2 separate regions of the Homo sapiens genome follow, and region 2 is linked to region 1. The links come from fine-mapping of genetic effects on gene expression. A gene starts in region 1. The other region holds a variant in brackets. All regions are shown on one strand. Distances are between the middles of the regions. Region 1 holds the start of DENND4C (DENN domain containing 4C). Region 2 overlaps DENND4C (DENN domain containing 4C).

What was found. PIP is the estimated chance that this variant, and not a neighbour inherited with it, causes the effect.
Region 2: its variant is the best candidate, but not a certain one, in a credible set for the expression of DENND4C in whole blood (TOPMed, PIP 0.62).

Annotation. Positions count from the first base shown.
Region 1 is chr9:19,229,131-19,232,039 of GRCh38, reverse strand. DENND4C (DENN domain containing 4C) reads right to left here and starts at 1,347. Exons shown (of 33, transcript NM_001330640.2): 1 at 1,207-1,347. RefSeq lists silencers at 800-939, 1,160-1,529, 1,610-1,909 and enhancers at 543-1,048, 1,049-1,555, 1,940-2,189.
Region 2 is chr9:19,330,072-19,332,980 of GRCh38, reverse strand. It overlaps DENND4C (DENN domain containing 4C), which reads right to left. Exons shown (of 33, transcript NM_001330640.2): 17 at 797-1,003. Among named protein-coding and RNA genes, the nearest start is that of RPS6, 49 kb to the left of the region's middle. The variant G/A (reference allele first, on the strand shown) is at 1,144.

The sequences.
Region 1 (2,909 bases):
TTGCTCTTATCGCGTGTACACAGAAAAATCATACAACGCTCTGCATTTCTGATAGAGTAATACACACTATCACATCAAATCAAGTATTTATCCAGAACTTAGCGCCTTAGCACTAACGTTCTCCCCTCTCATTATACACAGACCGGAAGGGAAAACCTATTCCTACGTAAATTAGGGCCTAGGAAGAACGCCTCAACACGGGTTTGCACACAATTAAGCAGGCTCAGTGGGTCAATTTCTCAGGCTACAACGCTTGACAGTATCTCGGAGGCACAAAGAGACAGCTGAGGGTTCACTACTGGAAATGACACTTTCCCTCAAATTTGCACAAGTACCCGCGGTAACTACCCTAAATTTTCCCGTGTGACAAACATACATAAGGGGAGAAGGAGGCGGTACTATTTAAAAACTGGGTAATTCCTTATTAGTGCAGATAAAAGACGGTCTTCGAGAGGGAAAAGGTCTATCAAGCAGAAAAGGGGAGGAAAAAAAAAAAGACGTGACAGCATTCTTAAAACAGAAAAAGTTACAGCTCTTTACAGGAGTCAGCCTTAGGACTTCATTCCTTGGTTTTGTGTTTAGTCACTCCAGAGTTAAAAGGATACTGCCCTCCTAGAAAGTCATCCCCGACAAAGAAGCCCTGAGGATCGGCCACCGTAAGACAGAGAAGGAAATGTCTTCAATTCACCAGAGACACCTGCCCAGGTCCCCCTCCTCCCCGTTGTCCCCGACACTTCTCAGTCCCCCGACTCCTCTCGAGACTGCCCGCCACCCCTGGCTCTAGCTCTCCGCTCTCTCAGCCTCGACCCCCTCTGGGAAGCCCCGATCCTGCTCCCTCCGCACCCCGGCCCCCACCAAAGCGGCCGTCGCCCCGGCGGTCCCCCGGGCCCAGACCCCTCGCGCTTGTACGCAAACGATTCTCATGGGCCCGGCGGGCGACGCGGGGAGGCTCTTCAGGGGCAGCCTTTCCCCGACTGCATCCCGCAGGATCCGGGGACTCCCCGCCCCCGGAAACCGCGGAGAAACTAGGCCACGAACGCCAGCCGCGGCCACTCTCCGCCTCCTCGGCGACCCCCCGCGGGCCAGCCACTCGGAACTCAGCCCTCCGGGCTCTACCTGTCCCGCGCCCTCCCAGCCTTGCAGCGCAGGCCCCGCGAGGGCACGGCGCAGGCTTCCTCCGCCAAAGGCCCCGCGCCGCAGCCTCACCTGCTGCCTGCTCCTCTGTCAGCGCAGCCCCGACACGGCTTCTTCCTGGGGCAAGAAAGCACCGGATTCGCGGACTGGGCGCGCTCGGCAGGGCAGGGCGGGGGACTAGCTCCAGCGGCCGCCGCCGCCTCAGTCCGGTCTGCGCCTGCGCCGCCTCGCGGGCAGGGTCTCCGAGGGGCGCCGCCTACAGCCAGGGGCGATGGCCGGAGCGCTGGCCCGCGCGGGTGCCTCCGCGCTGTGAGCCGTCGGACAGTGCGGGCGGCGCGTCGCCTAGGAGCTGCCCGCGGCGCAGCCGTCCCAAGACCTGACCGCCATGTTTCTGTTCCCTTTTTCTCCCCCGCCTTCCGCCCCTTTCCACAAAACAGCACTTTCTTTTCCCCCTCCCTCTCCCTTTCCTCCTGCGGGGGCGGGTGGAAAAGGGCGGGGGGTGGGAGGGAGAAGACGCAGGGAGGAGGGGGGCGGTGCGGTGCTCAGGCCCCTCCCCCGGGGAGGGCCGAGGCCCTGCAGCCACCGCTCCCCTCCCCCGCCCGACCCCTGTGCGACCCCCGCGGGGCGCGGGGTCTGAGCCTTGCGGGCCTCCGATCCCCTCCTCAGCGTTCGCGCGGCCGAGCCTGCAGAAACAGAGCTGGGGAGAAAGCGCTCTGGAGGCCGCTGTGCACCCCTTCCTGCAGGGCTCAGACTGGCGGTGTGATGTGGGTTTATTGCCTTGGCCTGAGGCAGGTGGCGGCTGCTTCTCTCGGAGTTTTCAAAGACAGGGAAAGTGATGCCGAGTGGCTGAAGGTCACTGAGGACAGTGCCGGGAGATACGTGAAGATTCCTTCCCAGGGAAGGAATCTGGAATTCCCACGCATGAGTAGAGGGCTCTAGAGAGACCCGCGCGCTGGCCCTTCCCGAAACCCCTTGGCTCCAGTGCACCATGTGAGTCCCTGGCCGCGCTCGGTGTCTCTCCTTCGGCCCAGATTTGGGGATGGGAATTCCTAATGGAGAAATCGCTCATTTGCATAGTCAGTACCCTCACGCCTCCTAAGTGTAGCCTCATTATCGACACAGACGCCTGCAGAGTCGTTTCTCTATAATGCAAATTTTGCAGGATATTTTTGAACAACGTTTTTGAGTTATCATAGTAAATGAAAAAGCAATTACTAGTTATTTAGGAAGAAGGAAATGGTTTGAAGTAGAGATAACTTTTTTACCTCTGGGGGGAAAAAAAGGCGAATGACTTCAGATTCCATGGCAGGTCAAAATCAGAACTGGTAAGATTTCTGCATATCTGGTGAGTATCCACATAAATAATCATTTTCCTGAAAATTACACTCTCCTTATTTAATCTGTATTTTTGCATAAAAATGTGAGATTATACCTGGGTCATAAATGCACTGCTGTCCATTTATTTCTGAAGTTTATTGCATAGCCATGGATAATTTGAGTTTTATATTCAATAGCAGAAACTATTTTTCTAACCACGTAAGCAGTCAGAATTGATTTCAGAAGAAATGCGCAGCAATAAAAGTTAAGGCTTATTTAATAACAGTTTGGGGCCAATTTGGTCCCCCTGGAAACTATCTTTGACATTGACAATCCGAAGAGCAAAAGTTTAAGAAAGGATCTAATACTTCAAAATTTAGCTTGTGGGCCGGACGCGGTGGTTCACGTCTGTAATCCCAGCACTTTGGGAGGCTGAGGCGGGCGGATCACCTGAGGTC
Region 2 (2,909 bases), 100 kb before region 1:
ACAGGTCCTAAGTGGAGAGCCACTTACTAAAAGCCTATTCCCTATCTGCTCCCCAATAAAGTTATATTAAGAATAAAATGAAGCCAGCCACAGTGGCTCATGCCTGTAATCCCTGCACTTTGGGAGGCCAAGGTGGGGGTTCAAGAGCCAGGAGTTCAAGACCAGCCTGGGAAACAAAGTGAGACTCCATCCCTTAAAAAAAAAAAAAAAAAAAATCAAAAACAGAAAAACCATATGCCAGGTGCCATGATCACACAACCGCACTCCAGCCTGGGCGAGAGAGGAGTGAGACTCCATCTCTTTAAAAATAAACAAACATGGCCGGATGTGATGGCTCATGCCTGTAATCCCAGCACTGAAAGCTGAGGCAGGCAGATCACTTGAGGCCAGGAGTTTGAGACCAGCCTGGCCAACACGGTGAGACCCCATCTCTATTAAAAATACAAAAAAAAAAAAAAAAAAATTAGCCAGGTATGGTAACATGTGCCTGTAATTCCAGCTACTCGGGAGGCACAAGAACTGTCTGAACCCGGGAGGCAGAGGTTGCAGGGAGCCAAGGACGCACTGCTGAACTCCAGCCTGGGTGACAGAGTGAGACTCTGTCACAAAAACAAATCAATAATTAAAATAAAAAATAAACAAGTAATATGCACCAGCTCCATGAAACAGTAATAGTTTTACCTTTCCTGCTTAATGAAAATGCTTGAGCACACTTTAAAGCAACTTACACCCAAATTTTATTAGAAGTACAAAAATAAAATTTACCTTAGAAACAATGTCAATTTGTTATACTTGCCTCATCTAAGGGATCCACATCTGTTTTCCTCATCTTAATAAGTACATCATATGCCTGCTGAAGTGCTCTGACTTTAGGATGAGAAACTCTAACATAGGCCGGAAGACAAATAAACCATAAACTGTAACAATGACTAAACAGACACTTGGCCCACTGTGGTGGATTTGTATAACATCTCTTCGCCAATTTATGAGCTGTTTTTATTTCCTAGAAAGAGAATAAAATATTATGATATTTACTAAAATTCATTAGGGTGAGGGGAGAAGTGAGAAGGAAAAGGGAGAGGAGAATTTAAGTAAAACTTGACCCCCTAAAATCAAGCACTTCAAAGTTGACTTTTGTGAGTG[G/A]CTTCCTGCTTATCAGTGTTAATGGTTCCCCTGAACATTCATTTACAGTAATACTTCATACTATACCAAATCTATTTGTTAGCAAGCATGTGTCTCTTAACAGAGTAGAAATTAAGAGCAAAGATCATTCATCTTTTTGTAATAGAATGGCTCATGTCTTTTACAAAGAAGGAACTCATTTTTGATGGGTGAAAAAGTGATATTCCTCTCACTCTTCTCTTCACTAAAGTTTAAGATGCTCTAGGCTATCTCCTGCCAAGATTTCCACTCTGTCTTCCCAAGCTACAGTCTATGTTAACTCCCTCACTGACAGACTCCTTAAAAAAGACCTGTTTCTGGCCAGGTGCAGTGGCTTATGCCTGTAATCCTAGCACTTTGGGAGGCCAAGGCAGATGGATCACGAGGTCAGGAGATCAAGACCAGCCTGGCCAACATGGTGAAACCCAGTCTCTACTAAAAATACAAAAATTAGCCGCGCATGGTGGCATGTGCCTGTGGTCCCAGCTACTCGGGAGTTTGAGGCAGGAGAATTGCTTGAACCAGGGAGTGGGAAGTTGCAGTGAGCTGAGATTGTGCCACTGCACTCCAGCCTGGCGACAGAGCGATACTCCATCTCAAAAAAAAAAAAAAGGACCTATTCCTTTGCAGTCAACATAAACTTTCCTAATAGTTTGATAGTCATGTTTTCTAGTTCTGGTTTTCATTCAGATTTAGGTAGAAGAGAAAATTAGGTATCAAAATCATCTGGTGAGTTTTGGTGTTTTCTTTGTTATTTTTTTTTAAGACAGAGTCTTGCTTTTGTCGCCAAGGCTGGAGTGCAATGGCGTGATCTCAGCTCACCGCAACCACTGCCTCCCGGGTTCAAGTGATTCTCCTGCCTCAGCCTCCTGAGTAGCTGGGATTACAGGCACCCACCACCATGCCCAGCTAATTTTTTTGTGCAGATTTTTAGTAGAGACAGAGTTTCACCATGTTGGCCAGACTGGTCTAGAACTCCTGACCTCAGGTGATCTGCCCACCTCAGCCTCCCAAAGTGCTGGGATTATAGACGTGAGCTGCCGTGCCCAGCCATCTGCTGAGCTTTACCAAACTATATATATTCCCAGAAACTACAGAACCTATCACATATATCAGAATGCCATTTTATGCTCTGCACTGAAGATTCCTTGCTAGTCTATGTTCTAAATAAAAAAATCTTGGGGCTGGGCATGGTAGCTCATGTATATAATCCCAGCACTTTGGGAGGCCGAGGCAGGTGGATCACAAGGTCAAGAGATCGAGATCATCCTGGCCAACATGGTAAAGCCCTGTCTCTACTAAAAATACAAAAATTAGTTGGGCGTGTTGGTGGGCGCCTGTAATCCCAGCTATTCAGGAGGCTGAGGCAGGAGAATCGCTTGAACCTGGGAGGCAGAGGTTGCAGTGAGCCGAAATCGTGCCACTGCACTCCAGCCTGGATGACAGAGTGAGACTCCATCTTAAAAAAAAAAAAAAAAAAAAAAAACCAACTTGGTATATTAATTTTACTTTTGAGCTCGATCTCCATGACACTTCAGTACATATTTAAAAATACATGCCCTTGTTTTTCTAAGATCCTATGGTTCTTTTCTTTTCCAGTTAGCCTGAAAAAAAAAATTCTGCTATAAATGAGATTTAGAGGCTGAGTTAGCAAAATTTTCTCGTTTTAGAAATTTGCCTTTTGTTAGCTGGTAACAGTAAAAAAAAATTCTTTAGTATTCTCTTCAGACAACATTGAAAGAAATATG